7 linked regions of the Homo sapiens genome follow. The protein of the gene in region 5 purifies or fractionates together with the protein of the main gene of each other region. This does not show direct contact. Each region holds a gene or a part of one and is shown on either strand. Other genes may lie near its edges. The genes, in order: OTUD5, BIRC2, HGFAC, VTI1B, RABGEF1, UBR1 and TAX1BP1.

Region 1 (2,618 bases), on a different chromosome or scaffold from region 5:
CGGGGAAGGTAAATGCGTTAAGGACCACCAGCAGCCATGACCTTCTTGTGACCCATCCCTGAATGCTGGCTCCCTTCCCAGGACCTTGGCTATGATACAGCTTCTATGTAGGTCAACATCATCCCCACTCACACGGTGGACCACAAGACTCCTCACAGGACAGAGGTGGAGCTCCTTACCCTTTCTCTCACACCCCTACAGCCAATCTGACAGGAAACCCTGTTACCTCTATCTTGAAAATAGATCTCAAATCCAACCCCTTCTCACCAACTCCACTGCCAGCACTGGCCACCAGTCACCTGGCCTACTGCAGTAGCCTCCTCCTCACTGGCCCCTGCTTCTGCCCTCACTCACCAGACTCCACTGGATGACTAGCAGGCAAGGCGATCTTATTAAATCCCCAACCACATCCTGTCCGTCCTCTGCTCACAATCCTCCCATGGTTTCTGCCTCTCTGAGAGTAAATGCCAAAGTCCTCGCCACAGCCCACAAGCCCCTACCCAATTGGACCCACAACCTCTCTGACTTCATCTACTACTACATTCTGTTCGGATACACCGGCCTCCCTCTGGGCTGTGCCTGAGTTGTACCAGGTGTGTGGGCCTGCTGTCCTCCCCTCCATGTGCGCTCAGCTAACTCTCACCTTCTGCAAGGCTCAAATCTCACCTGCTCTGAGGCCTACCCTGACTGCGCTATTTCATACCGTGAACGCACATTCCTGCTCAGCCCCTTTATCCTGGCTCTACACTTTCCATCCATAGCACTTCCCAACTAATTTATTCATTATATTTATTATTTTATTTCACTCTGCAAAACTGTGAACATCACAAGGACGGGGATCTTGGTCTGCTGGGCTCACCTATGTATCCCCATATACTGAAAACAGGGCCTGCCACAGACTGGTAGTAGGTATTTGTGGAATAAAACTCAGCTCCTTCAGCCGGGTGCGGTGGCTCACGCCTGTAATCCCAGCACTTTGGGAGGCCGAGGTGGTCGGATCACGAGGTCAGGAGATGGAGACCATCCTGGCTAACACGGTGAAACCCCGTCTCTACTAAAAATACAAAAAATTAGCCAGGCGTGGTGGTGGGCGCCTGTAGTCCTAGTTACTCCGCAGGCTGAGGCAGGAGAATGGCATCAACCTGGGAGGCGGAGCTTGCAGTGAGCCGAGACTGCGCCACTGCACTCCAGCCTGGGCGACAGAGCAAGACTCTGTCTCCAAAAAAAAAAAAAAAAAAAAACTCAGCTCCTGCCAGCCAACATCTACAATCACTCCAAACTCCTTGCGATTTTACAATTCCTCAGATGCTTGTCTGCCCCGCCCCTCCCCGCTCCCCTAACAATTCAACCTTCCTCTGTGAAGACTAACCGGAGCCCCCACCTCCACTGATCTCCCAGTCAGGGTCAAGGACCCCACCATTGAGTTGTCTCTGCCAACAGACGAGATCGTTGAGGGCAGAGTAGTCCAGATCTGATGTTACATTCTCAGTAGAGACCTGGCACACAAGGGCAGTCAACAAAAGCTTGTGTCTCTGAAGCTATCCATTATTCTCGTGTCACCAGCAGCATGGCTGCCCTCCTCTCACTCCTTAAGTGCCTGTTCTGCACAAGTATTTAAAGTTCCAAGGTACAATGCCAAAACTAAGACCAAGATGAGTTACAGATGGTGCTGGATGCTTCCTTCCCTCCCAGATGTCAAAACTGCTTAATTTTTTTCTGCTCGCTTGAGGGCAAAGCATGAGAAGTAATGAGTTTTTGGCCAAGCCTGTGACAGAGTCCATGACCCACCTGGCTGGGGCCTCGGACCTGGCGAGCCTGTTTCTCCTGATCCCGCAACCACTGCAGGTAGGATTCCCGAGCCACCTGCTCCTCGATGGCTTCATTTGTGGCCTCCCAGTCTGTGGCCCGTTTCTTGTCTTCTAGCATCTGCTGTTCAATCCATGACTCCTCCGATGTTTTTATGGCATTCTTCATCAGAGACTGCTCTGCAAACTGCAAGGAGGGAGAGGAACAGGGATGTGCAATAACACACTGAACCTGCCCAAGAGCCAGAACAGGCTCAGCGAGGTAGGCCCACAGGCCCCAGAAAAAAAAGGAGACAGGAAAGCAGGTACTCCCAAAGAGCAACACTCCACAGACTACCTCTTGATTGGGGACCAAGGGAAAGCAGGCTTGGGATGTGGGACCTGTCATTCCAAACTCCTATGCTTGTAAGACCTGACTCTAACCCCCAAACCACCTCAACTGAGGCACTGAGACTGGAGCAGTCAGGTGCCTTCCAACCTGGGACTTATTTTTTTTTTTTTTTCTGAGACGAAGTATCGCTCTGTCGCCCAGGCTGGAGTGCAGTGGGGTAATCTCGGCTCACTGCAACCTCCGCCTCCCAGGTTCAAGGGATTCTCCAGCCTCAGCCTCCCAAGTAGCTGGGATTACAGGTGAGTGCCACCACCCCCGGCTAACTTTTTTGTATTTTTAGTAGAAATGGGGTTTCACCATGTTGGCCAGGCTGGCCTTGAACTCCTGACCTCAGGTGATCCACCCGACTCGGCCTCCCAAAGTGCTGGGATTATAGGTGTGAGCCACTGCACCTGGCCCTGGGCCTTAATTTAAAGAAGCCC
Region 2 (3,576 bases), on a different chromosome or scaffold from region 5:
TGGGGGAGGGGCGCCCGCCATTGCCCAGGCTTGATTAGGTAAACAAAGCAGCCAGGAACTCGAACTGGGTGGAGCCCACCACAGCTCAAGGAGGCCTGCCTGCCTCTGTAGGCTCCACCTCTGGGGGCAGGGCACAGACAAACAAAAAGACAGCAGTAACCTCTGCAGACTTAAGTGTCCCTGTCTGACAGCTTTGAAGAGAGCAGTGGTTCTCCCAGCACGCAGCTGGAGATCTGAGAACCGGCAGACTGCCTCCTCAAGTGGGTCCCTGACCCCTGACCCCCGAGCAGCCTAACTGGGAGGCACCCCCCAGCAGGGGCACACTGACACCTCACACGGCAGGGTATTCCAACAGACCTGCAGCTGAGGGTCCTGTCTGTTAGAAGGAAAACTAACAAACAGAAAGGACATCCACACCGAAAACCCATCTGTACATCACCATCATCAAAGACCAAAAATAGATAAAACCACAAAGATGGGGGAAAAACAGAACAGAAAAGCTGGAAACTCTAAAACGCAGAGCGCCTCTCCTCTTCCAAAGGAACGCAGTTCCTCACCAGCAACGGAACAAAGCTGGATGGAGAATGACTTTGATGAGCTGAGAGAAGAAGGCTTCAGACGATCAAATTACTCTGAGCTACAGGAGGACATTCAAACCAAAGGCAAAGAAGTTGAAAACTTTGAAAAAAATTTAGAAGAATGTATAACTAGAATAACCAATACAGAGAAGTGCTTAAAGGAGCTGATGGAGCTGAAAACCAAGGCTCGAGAACTACGTGAAGAATGCAGAAGCCTCAGGAGCCGATGCGATCAACTGGAAGAAAGGGTATCAGCAATGGAAGATGAAATGAATGAAATGAAGCGAGAAGGGAAGTTTAGAGAAAAAAGAATAAAAAGAAATGAGCAAAGCCTCCAAGAAATATGGGATTATGTGAAAAGACCAAATCTACGTCTGATTGGTGTACCTGAAAGTGATGGGGAGATTGGAACCAAGTTGGAAAACACTCTGCAGGATATTATCCAGGAGAACTTCCCCAATCTAGCAAGGCAGGCCAACGTTCAGATTCAGGAAATATAGAGAACGCCACAAAGATACTCCTCGAGAAGAGCAACTCCAAGACACATAATTGTCAGATTCACCAAAGTTGAAATGAAGGAAAAAATGTTAAGGGCAGCCAGAGAGAAAGGTCGGGTTACCCTCAAAGGGAAGCCCATCAGACTAACAACGGATCTCTCGGCAGAAACCCTACAAGCCAGAAGAGAGTGGGGGCCAATATTCAACATTCTTAAAGAAAAGAATTTTCAACCCAGAATTTCATATCCAGCCAAACTAAGCTTCATAAGTGAAGGAGAAATAAAATACTTCACAGACAAGCAAATGGTGAGAGATTTTGTCACCACCAGGCCTGCCCTAAAAGAGCTCCGGAAGGAAGCACTAAACATGGAAAGGAACAACCGGTACCAGCAGCTGCAAAATCATGCCAAAATGTAAAGACCATTGAGACTAGGAAGAAACTGCATCAACTAACGAGCAAAATCACCAGCTAACATCATAATGACAGGATCAAATTCACACATGACAATATTAACTTTAAATGTAAATGGACTAAATGCTCCAATTAAAAGACACAGACTGGCAAATTGGATAAAGAGTCAAGACCCATCAGTGTGCTGTATTCAGGAAACCCATCTCACGTGCAGAGACACACATAGGCTCAAAATAAAAGGATGGAGGAAGATCTACCAAGCAAATGGAAAACAAAAAGAGGCAGGGGTTGCAATCCTAGTCTCTGATAAAACGGACTTTAAACCAACAAAGATCAAAAGAGACAAAGAAGGCCATTACATAATGGTAAAGGGATCAATTCAACAAGAAGAGCTAACTATCCTAAATATATATGCACCCAATACAGGAGCACCCAGATTCATAAAGCAAGTCCTGAGTGACCTACAAAGAGACTTAGACTCCCACACATTAATAATGGGAGACTTTAACACCCCACTGTCAACATTAGACAGATCAACGAGACAGAAAGTCAACAAGGATACCCAGGAATTGAACTCAGCTCTGCACCAAGTGGACCTAATAGACATCTACAGAACTCTCCACCCCAAATCAACAGAATATACATTTTTTTCAGCACCACACCACACCTATTCCAAAATTGACCACATAGTTGGAAGTAAAGCTCTCCTCAGCAAATGTAAAAGAACAGAAATTATAACAAACTATCTCTCAGACCACAGTGCAATCAAACTAGAACTCAGGATTAAGAAACACTCAAAATCACTCAACTACATGGACACTGAACAACCTGCTCCTGAATGACTACTGGGTACATAACGAAATGAAGGCAGAAATAAAGATGTTCTTTGAAACCAATGAGAACAAACACACAACATACCAGAATCTCTGGGACACATTCAAAGCAGTGTGTAGAGGGAAATTTATAGCATTAAATGCCCTCAAGAGAAAGCAGGAAAGATCTAAAATTGACACCCTAATATCACAATTAAAAGAACTAGAGAAGCAAGAGCAAACACATTCAAAAGCTAGCAGAAGGCAGGAAATAACTAAGATCAGAGCAGAACTGAAGGAAATAGAGACACAAAAAAACCCTTCAAAAAATCAATGAATCCGGGAGCTGGTTTTTTGAAAAGATCAACAAAATAGATAGACCGCTAGCAAGACTAATAAAGAAGAAAAGAGAGAAGAATCAAATAGACGCAATAAAAAATGATAAAGGGGATATCACCACTGATCCCACAGAAATACAAACTACCATCAGAGAATACTACAAACACCTCTACACAAATAAACTAGAAAATCTAGAAGAAATGGATAAATTCCTCAACACATACACTCTCCCAAGACTAAACCAGGAAGAAGCTGAATCTCTGAATAGACCAATAACAGGATCTGAAATTGTGGCAATAATCAATAGCTTACCAACCAAAAAGAGTCCAGGACCAGATGGATTCACAGCGGAATTCTACCAGAGGTACAAGGAGGAACTGGTACCATTCCTTCTGAAACTATTCCAATCAATAGAAAAAGAGGGAATCCTCCCTAACTCATTTTATGAGGCCAGCATCATTCTGATACCAAAGCCGGGCAGAGACACAACAAAAAAAGAGAATTTTAGACCAATATCCTTGATGAACATTGATGCAAAAATCCTCAATAAAATACTGGCAAAACGAATCCAGCAGCATATCAAAAAGCTTATCCACCATGATCAAGTGGGCTTCATCCCTGGGATGCAAGGCTGGTTCAATATACGCAAATCAATAAATGTAATCCAGCATATAAACAGAGCCAAAGACAAAAACCACATGATTATCTCAATAGATGCAGAAAAAGCCTTTGACAAAATTCAACAACCCTTCATGCTAAAAACTCTCAATAAATTAGGTATTGATGGGACCTATTTCAAAATAATAAGAGCTATCTATGACAAACCCACAGCCAATATCATACTGAATGGGCAAAAACTGGAAGCATTCCCTTTGAAAACGGGCACAAGACAGGGATGCCCTCTCTCACCACTCCTATTCAACATAGTGTTGGAAGTT
Region 3 (2,586 bases), on a different chromosome or scaffold from region 5:
GGGGAGGGCTGGTCCATGCAGCCTCCAGCCCCCCTTGCACAGCCCCCCCAGGGACAGCGTCTCCGTGGTGCTGGGCCAGCACTTCTTCAACCGCACGACGGACGTGACGCAGACCTTCGGCATCGAGAAGTACATCCCGTACACCCTGTACTCGGTGTTCAACCCCAGCGACCACGACCTCGGTGAGCTCCGGCGTGTCGTGGCTGCACTCTGGGCAGGTGGGCCCTGTGCTCCCCAGGCCAGGCCCAGACAGGGGCAGGAGCTGGGCAGACATGTGGTGCGGGGGAAGCTGGGGGCAGGGCAGGGAGGACAGGGCACCGCTCCCTTCTGGATCTCCCAGGCTGCCCTGTGGACCCCACTGGCTACCCTCCCTCCACCACGGGCCCCGACAGCCTCCCGTTCAGCCCGCACACCACAGGCTGACCCTGGCCACTCTTCTGATCAGTCCTGATCCGGCTGAAGAAGAAAGGGGACCGCTGTGCCACACGCTCGCAGTTCGTGCAGCCCATCTGCCTGCCCGAGCCCGGCAGCACCTTCCCCGCAGGACACAAGTGCCAGATTGCGGGCTGGGGCCACTTGGATGAGAGTGAGTTGGGAGGGGGGCGCCCAGCGCCCCGCCAGGGTGGACAGTGGCCAGCCACAGTGTGGGTGTCACGCTGAGGGCATTGTGTCCCACAGACGTGAGCGGCTACTCCAGCTCCCTGCGGGAGGCCCTGGTCCCCCTGGTCGCCGACCACAAGTGCAGCAGCCCTGAGGTCTACGGCGCCGACATCAGCCCCAACATGCTCTGTGCCGGCTACTTCGACTGCAAGTCCGACGCCTGCCAGGTGAGCTGGTGCCCGCCCCACCAGGACCCGACTGGTGGGGGCTCAGCTGGTCCTGAGTCTCCGAGATGCTTGCCCCTGGGGAGCCCAGAGCCTGGCGGCACCCCAACCTGGCAGGGCCAGCCAGGGACCCCTGGGCAGGGAGCACACTTACTGTCGGTGGCCAGCACCCCAGGGCCACCCAGAGCCCTGCCGGAAGGGCATCCTCCTCACACAGAAGGGGAGACCCAGGCTCTGAGAGGGGCCTGGGGTCCCACAGAGCCCGGACAGTTCCTGGCTGTCCAGCCCAAGGCAGTGCTTTCCGTGTGACACTAGGCACCAAAGGCCCCTTTGCCCCGAGTTCTCTCAAGCCAGCTCTTCAACCTTCAATAAGTTCTTCAACCTTCAATAAGCCCAACAGCCCAACCACGTCCTGGGCTCTGCAGGCCTGTGTGCTCAGGCGGCACGGCAACCCTGGCATGCGACGGCTCTCTTATGCCCCATTTTATAGCTGGGGAGACTGAGCCCCAGGCAGTCAATTCACTCTTCCAAGGCCACAAAGCCCAGGAGTGGTAGAGTGGGTAGGGCTTGTCACTGGACCTCGATAAGGGAAGTCAGGATGGTTTCCTGGAGGAGGGAGTGTTTGCACTGGTCCTGAGTGATGCGTAGGAGTTTTCCAGGGAGTGAAGAAGTCATTTCAGGAGGTGCTGGGACACAGGGTGGCTGTGTGGTCCACACAGGGTTCATGCTGGTGGGGAGAGGGGGACCGTGGCTTCAGGAAGGGGAATAACGTGGTTGGATGCCCTGGCCCAGCCAGTGCTGCCCCCAGGGAATGAGACACCTTTTCATGAGGTTCAGGAGAGTGGATCAGCTCCCTTGCTCAGAAATGCCTTTGTCCTCTGTCCCCAAGCTGCCACTTGGGGGAGAGGGGGGTCCCTGAACCAGGCCCCTGGGAGGGTGGCTCTGACCAACGTCTCTGCCCAGGGGGACTCAGGGGGGCCCCTGGCCTGCGAGAAGAACGGCGTGGCTTACCTCTACGGCATCATCAGCTGGGGTGACGGCTGCGGGCGGCTCCACAAGCCGGGGGTCTACACCCGCGTGGCCAACTATGTGGACTGGATCAACGACCGGATACGGCCTCCCAGGCGGCTTGTGGCTCCCTCCTGACCCTCCAGCGGGACACCCTGGTTCCCACCATTCCCTGCCTTGCTGACAATAAAGATATTTCCAAGAACCCGGCCCACGCTGCCTGGCCCCTGCCTGCGGCCCCGCCTTCCCCTCCAGGCCATGACTGGGGCCCAGGTCTATGCGCAGCAGGCCTCAGGCTGCCGTTCTGGAGCGCACACAGTCCTCAGTGGAGACGGAGCCTGTGGCCCCACAGCGGGGTCTGGCCCCACGGCCCAGAGAGTTGTCAGGGGATGAGGTCTGGGCCTCTCCAGGCCCCAGCAGAGTCCAGCCCCCTCCCAGGCCAGCCCCAGGCCGGGGCTCAGCACCTGGGTTGTCCCAGGGCAGGAAGTGGAAACCAAGTCCAGGCCCCCAGGCGTGGAGGGGTCCGATCCGCGTGGTGCACGGAGTATTGAACCTGAAGAAGAAAGAGCGGCCCCACGGGAACACCCGCAGGCCGTCGTTGGTCTTCCAGATGGCAGCCCGCCTGCCTGAGCCTGGGCTGCACTTCCCGGGAGGGAGGAGGCCACAGGCTGCCTCTGTGGGGGCTGAGGGAGGGAGGGGCCCATGTGCTAGATGGGGCCCAGTTAGAGGGTCACTGCTGGGCAGGCAGAGGCCG
Region 4 (3,576 bases), on a different chromosome or scaffold from region 5:
CACACCCAAAATCAAAAGGGACCCAGCTCACAGAGGCCTAGTACAGAGCAAGTGACCACTGGCAGTAGGACCATCAAGGAGCCAAAAGATTGGCTCCCAGAACAGAAGTAGCAAGGAGCATTTTCTTTCTTTCTTTTTTTTTTTTTTTTTGAGACAGTCTCGCTCTGTCGCCCGGGCTGGAGTGGAGTGGCAAGATCTCAGCTCACTGCAGCCTCTGCCTCCCGGGCACAAGCAATTCTGCTGCCTCAGCCTCCCAAGTAACTGGGATTACAGGCACCCGCCACCACGCCCAGCTAATTTTTGTATTTTTAGTAGAGACAGGGTTTCACCATGTTGGCCAGGCTGGTCTCGAACTCCTGACCTCAGGTGATCCACCAGCCTCAGCCTCCCAAGGTGCTGGGATTACAGGCGTAAGCCACTGTGCCCGGCGCTCTGTAGCATTTTCACTTAATAAATGGCATACAGACCAGTAGACGAGGAAACCACTGAATGAGGTTCAAATAAAACCAGTTAGGTTAGCGCAAAGGAAGAAGGAAAAAGGTTTTCAAAATAAAAGATGCAGATTTTCAACTGAGTAGGCTAAAAAATGACTAAGAAAAGATCAGATCACATAAATGAACTTCAGACAGATTTGGAACAATACTTTTTCTGAAGGTATGGATACCTAAATTATGTTTTAATAATTTCTGAAACTCGCCAGGCGTGGTGGGTCATGCCTGTAATCCCAGCACTTTGGGAGGCCGAGACGGGTGGATCACAAGGTCAGGAGATGGAGATCATCCTGGCTAACACGGTGAAACCCCGTCTCTACTAAAAGTACAAAAAAAAATTAGCCGGGCGTGGTGGTGGGCGCCTGTAGTCCCAGCTACTTGGGAGGCTGAGGCAGGAGAATGGAGTGAACCCGGGAGGTGGAGCTTGCAGTGAGCCGAGATTGCGCCACTGCACTCCAGCCTGGGTGACAGAGCGAGACTCCGTCTCAAAAAAAATAATAATAATTTCTGAAACTCATAATTTTAAAGCAAAATTGTTTGGACTTCCTCCCCAACTTTGGCAACATGACTAAAGTCACTTTTACAACTCCCACTTTAACCAGCTCCACCTGCCTGCCTGTTTCCAGTCTCCCTTTACAAGTGATCTTCTGTCAGCTTCTAATCTGTGATAATCCCTCGCGCATCCATTTGAAAATTTTAAGTACTTCATTCTCAAGGGATCTAGTTTTGGCATCAGCAATGTCAAGCCAATATCATCCTGAATATCTCTTAAACTATAATCAGGATGCATCGTGAAACAGGATTTGTTTAAAATTGTAGTATGAGCCTTTCAGTCTGCACTGGTGGGCCCCTTTCCATTTCTCTGCCATGCTACTTGCCAGAGAATTTCTACTTTGTGTTGTGTTTGTGGAAGACAGACCAAATGCAGCACATTTAATCTTTCAGACGTTTTATTCCTTTAACGATCTAGCTGCTCTAGATGGTTTCAGAATACAGATGTTCAATTAGTCCAATTTTATAAATCAGAATCCTGAAAGCTAGAGAGGGAGTCTTGCTCACTTTCTATTACCACAGAATAAAATGATAAAAAGCTCCTTCTCGAGAAGCGCCCTGCATTGGCTACTGTATCTCAGTTGCTGGGCCATCTTGACATTAAGGTAAAGGAAAGCTTGGATTGATTTTGTAACAATATTCTGATAAATTAGAAACCTAACTGAATTTTCCAGGCATACCTGAGAAAGTGATTCTAAAATTTATATGAGAGAATAAAAAAGATCAAGGAGAAAAGAAATTAGATCAATGAGTCAGAATCCAGATAATAAGAATAGGTAACATTTACATTCTACTACATACAAAGCACTGTTTTTTTTTTATTATAAGACTGTATTATATTAAGGATAAAAAGAAATCTAAATATGCATATAGTTCGAAAGGCCTGCCTTAAATAGAGCAGATACCAAGGGGTAACAGGAACTGGATGCAGAAAAGAGGATAAGGGTGAAAAAAATGAAACAAGAGTCTAGTATACACTGATAACATGAAATACCCCAACAATATAGTTAATTTTTGTACCACAGGCCCTTAAAGGAAAAAAAAAACAAACAAAACAGCTAAAACTTACCATATGCTCATTCTCTACAGCATATATGCCATATTTCATGTCTCCTCGGCCTCCAGGTGTGGCTGTCAAAGGTGTGCTTCTCACCTCCCGATGGAGTTTAGCAAGGTCCTTCCGGTAGTTTCGAAGCTTAGACATCATGGGGTTTCGGAAAGACAGGGGTGCATAACGTAGCTCCTCCTCCATCTCTGCCAGCTGGGAAGGCAGAAAGTAGTGAGCAGATAGCCTGGTTCTTCCCTCACTCATTTGGAAATATGCCTAGTTTGGACTAATCAAACTACTTATTTATTTGGACTACACCAAGTAAATAACCATATGCTCCATGAGGCAGGGACCATGTCTGGCATGTTCCCCTCATTCTGAATGCCTTGCATAGTGCCCAGCAAGCACAGAGCAGGCATTCGAGTATATGAACTGAATGAATGAATGGAAAAACAGAAGTACTTTATAGCTTACTAAACACTTTTATATACATTCTCCATTTAATCCTCACAACAAATCAATAAGGTAGGAAATGCTCCATTTCATATATAAGACTTAAAGAAACCTCTGAAGATCGCACAAAAAGGAGTCCGGGCCAGGCACAGTGGCTCAAACCTGTAATCCTGGCACTTTGGGAAGCCGAGGCAGGAGGATCACTTGAGCACAGCCTGGGCAACATAGCAAGACCTCATCTCTATATATATATAAAAAATTAAACAGAAAAGGAGTCAGGATTCAAAATCTTCAAATTCTCTCAGCTCTCTTCAATATACCAAGTTTTTAGCCTGGTATGATTGAACATTGCCATCAAGAAGTGCTTTGAAGTCTACTGTATTAAAAATGATAGGGGTCTGGCATCAGGGTTCTTCCCTTCTCCTGCTCCTCTTTCTGAAAATCAATTAAGTTTGTCTCCATGTCAGAGAGAACAGGGGCCTACCCAGAGCAGTCTGCTTTAGGGGAATCAGACTTCCATTTTTCTGGGGTAAGTAAAATGTAACACCTGGACACATCCACAAGAGGCCCTAAATTATTTTCATCTGCCTGGAATGGGCAGCATAGGATTATTACTTTTGCTGAGTTTGGAGAAAACAAGTATCTGAGCATCAAACAAATCAGTAGCAGCTAGAAGATTTTAAAAATGCTACCAAGGTATTAACTGAAACAGGAGAATGGCTACAAACAGGTATCATGGATATGCCCAGCTGTACACAGGTATTAAGAAAAGCTCCCAGTACTCCCATTAGGAAGAAGATAGTTCCCACAGTCTAGTGGCCTGGTCTTTCTTAAAACAGATGCAAAACAGAGAAAAGGATGCAGATGTGCTTCCTTCTCAGAACTTCATTGGGATAAGTGGGAAATTGAAACACTGATCTTCAACAAGCAAGAAGGAAGTTCGCTGGCCAAAAGAGAATTTTTTCTCCATCTGCTCTCGGGTAGCAAATACAGGGCCAACTATTTCTGCGGAGTACTAGCAGCGACCAGAAT
Region 5 (2,692 bases):
CTTTAAAAAATGCTGACATTTATAAGCAATTTAGTTACATTCTAGATCCCAATCAGTTGAGTGTAGTAAGGGCTACCTACAATTTAGGCTCAAATAAATACTCTCCACTAAATTGTGATCATCCTGCATAAACTTGAGGTTGCAGTGGTGGAGGAAGTTTATCATTTTCAACGTTTTCAGAGTCAATAGCTGCTAACGGTTGATTCGGAGGCTTAATTTCCAGTGGGTATTTCTCAACGATGTCTTGAACTTCTCTTGCAATTCCATCTGTCCAATCTATGAGGTCTTTTTCCAGTTTCTTGGCTTCATTCATGATCCTTTCTTGTCGTTCATTCAACTGAGACAAGAGATCCAAGTTCTTATACATTTGCTTGACGCCTAAGCAAGCATCAGGAGACCAACTCTCAGCTTCTTGCTTCCTGGGAGAGGTCTGGCCAGACATGTAGCGATCAAAATCCTCCTGACTTAGATTCAAAGACTGGGCGTCTAGCTTCTCAATGAAAGCCACAGCACAGCACTACAAGAAGAGGACGTTAATACAGTCATATTAGGAAAGCTATGCATACTCGAGTCGATTTGTAAAAATCTTTTGATCACAGACCATTTAAAACAGAAGCTAAAGTAAACAAAACAAACTCATGAACTTCTGTGTATTTCAGCCTCAAAAATTACCTACTCCTATCCCCGGTCGTGCTTCCTATACACTCCCAGGAGCTCCAGGGCCGATGTCTGGGTGCAGCCTCCCCAGGTGCACCATGAAGCCATTCTGTCTGAGTCTTCCCAGACCTGCTATCCCCACCCAGGATATAGTCCCCAAGTAGGTGTGGCACACAGACCTCTGATCCTCAAATGAATATTTTAACATCAAGTGGTTAAAAGAACAGCTCCAGACCGGGCCCGGTGCCTCAAGCCTGTAATCCCAGCACTTTGGGAGGCTGGGACGTGTGGATCATGAGGTCAGGAGTTTGAGACCAGCCTGGCCAACATGGTGAAACCCCATCTCTACTAAAAATACAAAAATTAGCTGGGCGCAGTTGTGGGCGCCTGTAATCCCCGCTACCTGGGAGACTGAGGCAGGAGAATTGCTTGAACCTGGGAGGCGGAGGTTGCAGTGAGCCAAGATCACGCCACTGCACTCCAGCCTGGGTGACAGAGCAAGACTGTCTCAGGAAAAAAAAAAAAAAGGAACAACTCTGAAGTGACTGAACCTGAGTTCACTGTCACCTCTTTCACTTAACAACAACAGTGAGTGACCGTGGGAAAGTTACTTAAGCTCTCTGAGGTTTCTGTACCTGTAAATGGGGGGAAATACCACCTAGATTTATTGTGAGAATTAAACAACATAACATGTCACGTGCTTCCGAGAGGCCTGCAGCGAGCAATGAATACACGGTAGCAATTATTAGTACAGACATGGCACTGCAAATGCCCAATTCAACAGACATCTGAGCCAGGCGTGTTGGCTCGTGCTTGTAATCCTAGCACTTTGGGAGGCCGAGGTGGGAGGATTGCTTGAGACCAGGAGTTCAGACCAGCCTGGGAAACAGTCGGGGTAGAAACCATCTCTAGAAAAAAGGAATAAAGAAAAAGAAAAATCTGATTCATCTGAGTAGAACGGAACACCATCTGGCTCATGGTGTGTGTGGAGTTGCTGTGGCCCCTCTGTGACCTGGAAAGAGGAGGTGATTCTAACTCCTCACTTAGGTGAATGGAGACATGGCATTGCCACTAAAAGGAATAGAGAATACTGGAAAAGAAACAAACATCTGAAGGGGAAGTAGCTCTGAACAAATTATATTTGAGGTGCAATACAAGTGTAAGGTCAAGACAGGTGACCCAGAGCTGCAGGCCATCACTGCACAGTGAGTGACAGCTCTGTGACAGAGAAGATGGTGCAGGAAGAGAGATGCAGAGACAATGGAGTCCCATGGAATGACACAATTCAAGGTGGAAGTAGAAGACACAGACTTTACAAAGAGACAAGGAAGTAGTGGAATTGTGGAAGCCAAGGAACAACAGAAGTTGCAGAACAAAGGACTCTTGGAGAGTGCTATGAGAAGCGAAGGAAGATGAAGACTGTGAGTGCCCGTGGGGTTCGTCAGCTGGAAACTTTTTACTTTTGCCAGAGCAGTTTCATTGGAGCAATGGGTGTAGGAGACAGACTCTGAGTCAGGCAAGAAGAGGACAAAGAGAGAAGGCACAAATGTACTTAAGGCTGCAGGCCAAGGGCACTAGAAGCTGCTAAGTGTGTGCAAGCCAGCCACCTCTACTGTCAGTGACCGTGGCTACGCTCAAACACGTCCTGGTCCTCCTCCACTTCTCTCAATACCTGCCATGTCTCCACCTTCACACTTCTCAGGGACTTCCAGGTTGTCTGACTCGCTTTGGATAAAGAACTGAATCCAAAACGCTCTTCCCTCGTAGGCAAGTGTATGTTTCATTTATATTAAGAAATATGAGGCCAGGTGCGGTGGCTCATGCCTGTAATCCCAACACTGTGGGAAACTGAGGTGGGTGGATTGCTTGAGGTCAGGAGTTCGAGACCAGCCTGGCCAACAAGGTGAAACCCCGTCTTTACTAAAAATACAAACATTAGCCGGGCATGGTGACACACATCTGTAATCCCAGCTACTTGGGAGGCTAAGGCATGAGAATCACTTGAACCCAGGAGACGGAGGTTGCAGTGAGCTGA
Region 6 (3,576 bases), on a different chromosome or scaffold from region 5:
GCAATAGTATGAAGTCTTTAAAAATGTACTTAATGTTAAAATACTGCTAAAAAATGCTAATGATCATCTGAGTCTTTAGAAAGTTGTCATCTTTTTGCTGATAGGGGGATCTTCCCTCAATATTAATGGCTGACTGATTAGGTTGGTGATTGCTAAACGTGGGGGTGGCTATGGCAATTTCTCTCTTTTTTTTTTTTTTTCTGAGACAGAGTCTCACTCTATCCCTCAGACTGGAGTGCAGTGGCACGATCTGGGCTCACTGCAATCTCCGCCTGCCGGATTGAAGCAATTCTCCTGCCTCAGTCTCCCGAGTAGCTGGGATTACAGGCGCCTGGCTCATTTTTGTATTTTTGGTAGAGATGGGGTTTCACCATGTTGGTCAGGCTGGTCTCAAACTCCTGACCTTAGGCAATCCGCCCACCTCGGCCTCCCAAAGTGCTGGGATTACAGCCGTGAGCCAACGCGCCCGGCCAGGCAATTTCTTAAAATAAGACAACCATGAAGTCTGCCACATTGATTGACCTTTTCACAAAAGATTTCTCTGTAGCATGTGATAGCATGTTACCAATGGCAGAACTTCTTTCAAAACTGGAGTCAATCCTTGCCAACTCTGCGGCTGCTTTATCAACTATGTTTATGGAATATTCTAAATCATTTGTTCTTATTTAAACAATGTTCACAGCATCTTCACCAAAAGTAGATTCCATCTCAAGAAACCACTTTCTCTGCTCATCCAGAAGAAACAATTCCTCATCCATTAAGTTTTATCATGTGTTTACAGCAATTCAGTCATAACTTCAACCTCCACTTCTAATTCTAGTTCTCTTATTTCTACCACATCTGCAGTTACTTCCTCTACTAAAGTCTTGAACCCCTCAAAGTCATCCAGGAGGGTTGGAATCAACTTCTTCCAAACTCCTGTTCATGTTGATATTTTGACCTCCTCCCACAAACTATGAATGTTCCTAATGGCATCTAGAATGCTGAATCCTTTCCAAAAGTTTTTCAATTGACTTTGCCCACATCTATCAGAGGAATCGTAATTTATGAAAGCTATAGTTTTATGAAATGTGTTTCTTAAATAGTAAGAGTTGAGAGTTGCAATTACTCCTTGATCCATGGGCTACAGAATGGATATTGTGTTAGCAGGCATGAAAATAACATTTATCTCCTTGTATATCTCCATCAGAGCTTTTGGGTGACCAAATGTATTGTCAATAAGCAGTATATTTTGAAAAGAATCTTTTTTTTTTCTCAGCAGTTCTCTACAGTGGACTTAAAATATTCAGTAAATCATGTTATAACAGATGTACTGTCATCCAGGCTTTCTAGTTCCATTTATTCAACATACGCAGAGTAGCATAATTCTTAAGTATTCTTGGATTTTCTGAATGGTAAATGGAAATTGGCTTCAACTTAAAATTACCAGCTGCATTAGCCGCTAGCAAGAGAGTCAGCCTGTCCTTTGAAGCCAGGCATTGACTTCTCTCTAGCTATGAAAGCTCTAGATGGCATCTTCTTCCAACAGAAGGCTGTTTCGTTTACATGGAAAATCTGTTTAGTGTAGCCACCTTCATCAATTATCTTAGCTAGATCTTCTGCATAACTTGCTGCATCTTCTCCATCAATCAGCACTTACTGCTTCACGCTGCACTTTTATGTTGTGGAGATGGTTTCTTTTCTTAAACATCACGAACCAACCTCTGCCAGCTTCCAACTTTTCTTCTGCAGCTTCCTCACTTCTCTCAGCCTTCGGAGAACTGAAGAGAGTGAGGGCCTTGCTCTTTGATTAGGTTTTGCCTTAAGGGAATATTGTGGCTGGTTCAATCTTCTATCCAGAGCACTAAAACTTTTTCCACATCATCAGTAAGGCTGTTTCACTTTCTTATTATTTGTCTGTTCACTAGAGTAGCACTTTTAATTTCCTTCAAGAACTTTTCCTCTGCATTCACAACTTGGCTAACTGCTTGGCACAAGAGGCATAACTCTTGGCCTATGTCAGCTTTCAACAGCCTTCCTCACTAAGCTTCATCATTTCTAGCTTTTGATTTAAAGTGAGAAATGTTGAACTTTCCTTTTCACTAGAATACTTAGAGGCCATTGTAGGGTTAACTGGCTTAATTTTAGTATTGTCCCATCTTAGGGTATAGGGATGCCCAAGGAGACGGAGAGAGATGGATAAGTAGCTGGTCAGTGGGGCAGTCAGAACAAACACAGCTTTTTTTATTATGTTTGCTGTCTTTTATGGATGTGGTTCATGGCACCCCAAAACAATTACAATAGTAACATCAAAGGTCACTGATCACAGATCATCATAACAGATATAATAATGAAAAAGTTTGAAGTATTGTGAGAATTACCAAAATGTGACACAATGACACGAAGTGAGCACACAATGTTGAAAAAATGGCACTGAAAGGCTTCCTTGAGACAGGGTTGCCATAGACTTTCAATTTGTAAAGAACTGATTATCTACAAAGCACAATAATAAAGCTCAATAAAATAAGGTATGCCTGTATTTCACTGGTTCATCTGTATCACTGATTTATAAAAGTATCTATCCAGACACACTCTTTGTGCAGTACTGAGGACAAAAACCTTTTCATTTGCAGGATGTTTGGTATTATAAGAAGTCAGTTTCCAGCACTAGCACATCTACACTAAGTTACTGTTCCTTCCCTAGACTCTTAGTTAGTGGGGCTGAATCAGTCATTTTGACTTAGAGTTTTAGAACTCAATTTCACATCTAATTCTATAGAATCTGGCATTAAAAAATCAAAATTTCCCTAACTCCCCAAAATAGAAATTATGAGATGGTGAAAAAACAAAAGCCATTAGGTCTTGCTAAGATCTGGTGACAAAGTACTTCAGTTAGACTCAAAAGACCTACATTTTCATCAGTTTTCCCACTCAGAGTGTGTCCTTACTACACAAAACTGTGCTCTGGCCTAAAACAATATAGATTCAAATTTCTAAGGAAAATCATCTCCAATTAAAATCACATATAACTCCTCACTTCTATATTGAAGTCAAGAGATTATGTTGTATTTTAAAGATCCCCTATAGCCCAGGCACGGTGGCTCACATCTGTAATCCCAGCACTTTGGGAGGCTGAGGCGGGTGGATCACCTGAGGTCAGGAGTTTGAGACCAGCCCGGCCAACACGGCAAAATCCCGTCTCTACTAAAAATACAAAAATTAGGTGGGCATGGTGGTGTGCACCTGTAATCCCAGCTACTCGGGAGGCTGAGGCAAGAGAATTGCTTGAACCCAGGAGGCAGAGGTTTCAGAGAGCCAAGATTGCACCACTGCACTCCAGCCTGGGTGACGTCTCCAAAAAAACAAAAAAAAAAAGTTCCCCTACAGATATGAGATTATGGGTACATTTTTCTTTGATTTCCATAATGATTATTGCGTAACCATAACAATATTAAACTTTTAAAAAATCCTCCCATTTCAGCAGGAGACAACTTTGGGAAATAACAGAAATATTCTATAACCTGATTTGGTGGTAGTCACACAAGTATATACATTTGTTAAAATTTATCCAAGAAACGCCTTAAATGGGTACATTTT
Region 7 (3,576 bases), about 39 Mb from region 5:
TTAATATCCATACCATACATTCCATATTATACACAAAAATTAACTCAAAATGATTCACAGACCTAAATAGAAAAGCTGATTATAAAACTTCTAGAAGACAACACAGGAGAAAATCTTTATCTCCTTGGATTAGGCAAACATTCCTTAGAAGGTAAAAAGCATAAAACATAAATGAACTGATAAACTGTACTTTATCAAAATTTAAATTTTGCTTTTCTAAAAACATCATTAAGGAAATGAAAAGGCAAGCTACAGACTTGGAGAAAATATTCACCTTACATATATCAGACAAAAGACATATACAGAAAAAAAAAAAACACAACTCAAGATGAACAACCCTATATTTAAACTACCAAAAAGATTCGACCACTCACACAAAGAGATAAAGAGCAAATAAGCATAAGAAAAGATGCTCAACATCAAGTCATTATACAAATGCACATTAAAACCACAATGAGCTATCAGTACACACCCATTAGGCTGGCTATGTAAGATGGTACAAACACCTTACAAAACAGTTTGGTAATTTCTTTTTTTTTTTTTTTTTTGAGACAGAGTCTCACTCTGTCACCCAGGCTGGAGTGCAGTGGTGCAGTCTTGGCTCACTGCGACCTCCACCTCCCGGGTTCAAGCGATTCTCCTGCCCCAGCCTCCCATGTAGCTGGGATTACAGGAGTGTACCACCATGCCCAGCTAATTTTTGTATTTTTAGTAGAGAAAGGGTTTCACCATATTAGCCAGGCTGGTCACAAACTCCTGACCTCAAGTGATGCTCCCACCTCGGCCTCCCAAAGTGCTGGGATTACAGACATGAGCCACTGCACCCAGGAGGTAATTTCTTACAGAGTTATTCAACTACAATATCACCCAGGCAATTCACCCCTAGATATTTACCCAAAAGAAACAAAAAAAAACATATGTCCATAAACAACTTCTAAACAAATGTTCATAAGCAGCTTTATTTGTACCAGCCGAAAAACAACCCCAACTACCCATCAAGTGGTGAATGGATAAACAAATGATAAAATAAAAAAGGAATAAATATATGCAATAATATGAATAAATCTCAAATAATCATGCTGAAAGTGGGTAGAAAAAAGTACATATTACATGACTCCATTTTATAAAATTGTCTAAAAGGTAGGCTAATTGATAGTGACAGAAAGCAGGCCAATAATTTCCTAGAGATAAGGATAACGAAAGGGATGTGTTGCAAACAGGTACCAAAAAAACTGGGAGAGTGATGGCACTGTGGTGATAGTTTCACAACTGTGTATGTCAAAACTGATCCAACTGTATACTCTAGGTACGTGCAATTCATTGGATTTCAATTATACCTCAATATGGTTGTTTAAAAAAAAAAAAAAGCACCCTGAGGAAGGTTTTTGCTTGAACATTATTCTATCTTCCTTTCAATACTATTTCTATAGAAAAATCTTGAAATATTCATCCAGAATTGTTTCATCTTTAACGAAAATGTAGTTCACTCTTACAAAAAACTACCCTGAATTCAAGAGTAAAACTGTTCTAATCAACCCTTCCACAGGATTCTCTCAAGCAAAAAAAAAAATTCATTTTAACTTTGGTTAAAAGATTTTGCTATTTATAAGCAACAAAATATTTTAAATAATTACTGTAAATTAAATTACAGTAACATGAAGCTAATGTGTAAATTTTATTCTATAGCTCTAAAAAATGCCCCTCCCCTCCCCAATGCACACAAAAACACACAAAGCACATTTAAAAAAACAAACAAAAATCACTTGCACAAACAACACTTTTTCCTCTCTATGCCAAATTGATATAAATGAGAAGCATTTTCCCTTTTCCTTTAAATATTCCAGTACTGAATACTACACCAAGAAGGCTGCAAACCAGAAAAGTCTGAATGAAGCTGTTTAAAATAATCAAAATAGGCCGGGCGCGGTGGCTCATGCCTGTAATCCCAGCACTTTGACAGGCCGAGGCGAGTGGATCACGAGGTCAGGAGATAGAGACCATCCTAGCTAACATCGTGAAACCCCGCCTCTACTAAAAATACAAAAAATTAGCTGGGTGTGGTGGCAGGCGCCTGTAGTCTCAGCTACTTGGGAGGCTGAGGCAGGAGAATGGCATGAACCCAGGAGGCGGAGATTGCAGTGAGCTGAGATCACGCCACTGCAATCCAGCCTGAGCGAGAGAGTGAGACTCCGTATCAAAAAAAAAAATAAAATAAAATAATAATAATCAAAATAAACACCGTAAGAGACAATTCATTTGGTTAACATTCCCTTTTCCACTATGCAAGTCTAGTCACTTTAAGATGTAAAAATCTTTGCTATTATAATAGTAATTTATTTTATTTATTATTTTTTTTTAGAGACTCGCTCTGTTGCCTAGGCTGGAGTACAGTGTGCAAACTCGGCTCACTGCAACCTCCGCCTCCCGGGTTCAAGTGATTCTCCTGCCTCAGGAGACTGTAGCTGGGACTACAGGCATGCTCCACCACAGCCTGGCTAATTTTTGTATTTTTAGTACAGACAGGGTTTCACCATGTTGGCCAGACTGGTCTCGAACTCCTGGCCTCAAGCGATCCACCCACGTCGACCTCCCAAGGTGCTGGGATTACAGGCGTGAGCCACCGCACCTGGCCGATAATAGTAAATTTAAAAACAGCACTTCCCTTTTATGAAGTTCAAATATTTTTCATGCATCTTTATACGATGACAGATAATTTCTAACCTCAATTAACTATTTGCCCATTACCCAAACAAGAACATTTTATTAGGTGAAAAGAAAATAGTAACTTTAGGTCTCATGATGCTACACACACGCCTATGTGAACAGGTACACAAAACGCCCACCTCATCATCCCAAAAGCCAAAGTGAAACTAAGTAACACTATATGGAGATGGAAAAGAAACTCAAAGATACCAATCAATTGAAACAATAAAGGTAAGCTAAGTCATTAACATTTTATAAATCTCTTTCACTTACAAGGTAGTTAACTTACCTGCAAGAGTTGTTTACATTTATTATACTTTTCTGTTTTGTCAGCAATTTCTTTGGTCATTTCACAGACTTGCCCCTTTGTTACTATGTCAAAATCTGCCTCTGCTGTAGAAAGGCAGAATATAAGACTGTTAAAAAGTATTTTGCCCCTTATATTATCTTCCTGTTCAGAATAACTTAAAGGTCAGTATACTGTAAAATATAGTAAATGGAATGCTGAAGGACAGAAATATCTATTCATATCCTAGATATACAAAGAAGGATATATAAACTCTAGTTGAGAATTGTTAAATGTGTGTTTGGCCAGAACCAAGTTCGCATTCAATAATAAAGGATTATTCTTTGATTTTTTAAAAATTTGCTAAAAAGCGGCCGGGCACGGTGGCTCATGCCTGTAATCCCAGCACTTTGGGAGGCCAAGGCGGGTCGAGGCCGAGGCAGGAGATCGAGACCATCCTGGCTAACACGGTGAAATCCTGTCTCTACTAAAAATACAAAAAATTAGCCAGGCGTGGTGACACACACCTGTAGTCCCAGCTACTCAGGAGGCTGAGGCAGGAGAATTGCTTGAACCCAGAAGGCAGA

Evidence for each region.
Region 1: the proteins of RABGEF1 (region 5) and OTUD5 purify together in Homo sapiens (affinity purification with mass spectrometry; 2 studies listed by BioGRID and IntAct, with this or other methods). This does not show direct contact.
Region 2: the proteins of RABGEF1 (region 5) and BIRC2 purify together in Homo sapiens (co-immunoprecipitation; 3 studies listed by BioGRID and IntAct, with this or other methods). This does not show direct contact.
Region 3: the proteins of RABGEF1 (region 5) and HGFAC purify together in Homo sapiens (affinity purification with mass spectrometry; 2 studies listed by BioGRID and IntAct, with this or other methods). This does not show direct contact.
Region 4: the proteins of RABGEF1 (region 5) and VTI1B purify together in Homo sapiens (affinity purification with mass spectrometry; 2 studies listed by BioGRID and IntAct, with this or other methods). This does not show direct contact.
Region 6: the proteins of RABGEF1 (region 5) and UBR1 purify together in Homo sapiens (affinity purification with mass spectrometry; 2 studies listed by BioGRID and IntAct, with this or other methods). This does not show direct contact.
Region 7: the proteins of RABGEF1 (region 5) and TAX1BP1 purify together in Homo sapiens (co-immunoprecipitation; 3 studies listed by BioGRID and IntAct, with this or other methods). This does not show direct contact.

The regions. Positions count from the first base shown.
Region 1 is NC_000023.11:48,924,059-48,926,676, forward strand, and holds part of OTUD5 (OTU domain-containing protein 5), read right to left. Parts: intron 1,993-2,618; coding exon 1,789-1,992; intron 1-1,788. UniProt on the Homo sapiens protein: Deubiquitinating enzyme that functions as a negative regulator of the innate immune system. Has peptidase activity towards 'Lys-48'- and 'Lys-63'-linked polyubiquitin chains. Can also cleave 'Lys-11'-linked ubiquitin chains (in vitro).
Region 2 is NC_000011.10:102,371,188-102,374,763, reverse strand, and holds part of BIRC2 (baculoviral IAP repeat-containing protein 2), read right to left. Parts: intron 1-3,576. UniProt on the Homo sapiens protein: Multi-functional protein which regulates not only caspases and apoptosis, but also modulates inflammatory signaling and immunity, mitogenic kinase signaling, and cell proliferation, as well as cell invasion and metastasis.
Region 3 is NC_000004.12:3,447,450-3,450,035, forward strand, and holds the end of HGFAC (hepatocyte growth factor activator serine protease isoform 2 preproprotein), read left to right. Parts: intron 1-42; coding exon 43-182; intron 183-445; coding exon 446-586; intron 587-678; coding exon 679-827; intron 828-1,787; coding exon 1,788-1,970; 3' UTR 1,971-2,037; downstream 2,038-2,586. UniProt on the Homo sapiens protein: Serine protease that hydrolyzes the inactive zymogen hepatocyte growth factor (HGFsc) to an activated disulfide-linked heterodimer, then initiating hepatocyte growth factor receptor signaling pathway.
Region 4 is NC_000014.9:67,657,619-67,661,194, forward strand, and holds part of VTI1B (vesicle transport through interaction with t-SNAREs homolog 1B), read right to left. Parts: intron 2,305-3,576; coding exon 2,113-2,304; intron 1-2,112. UniProt on the Homo sapiens protein: V-SNARE that mediates vesicle transport pathways through interactions with t-SNAREs on the target membrane. These interactions are proposed to mediate aspects of the specificity of vesicle trafficking and to promote fusion of the lipid bilayers.
Region 5 is NC_000007.14:66,806,711-66,809,402, reverse strand, and holds part of RABGEF1 (rab5 GDP/GTP exchange factor), read right to left. Parts: intron 1,566-2,692; coding exon of another isoform or gene 1,527-1,565; exon of another isoform or gene 518-1,526; coding exon 119-517; 3' UTR 1-118. UniProt on the Homo sapiens protein: Rab effector protein acting as linker between gamma-adaptin, RAB4A or RAB5A. Involved in endocytic membrane fusion and membrane trafficking of recycling endosomes. Stimulates nucleotide exchange on RAB5A. Can act as a ubiquitin ligase.
Region 6 is NC_000015.10:43,095,990-43,099,565, forward strand, and holds part of UBR1 (E3 ubiquitin-protein ligase UBR1), read right to left. Parts: intron 1-3,576. UniProt on the Homo sapiens protein: E3 ubiquitin-protein ligase which is a component of the N-end rule pathway. Recognizes and binds proteins bearing specific N-terminal residues that are destabilizing according to the N-end rule, leading to their ubiquitination and subsequent degradation.
Region 7 is NC_000007.14:27,795,636-27,799,211, reverse strand, and holds part of TAX1BP1 (tax1-binding protein 1), read right to left. Parts: intron 3,097-3,576; coding exon 2,993-3,096; intron 1-2,992.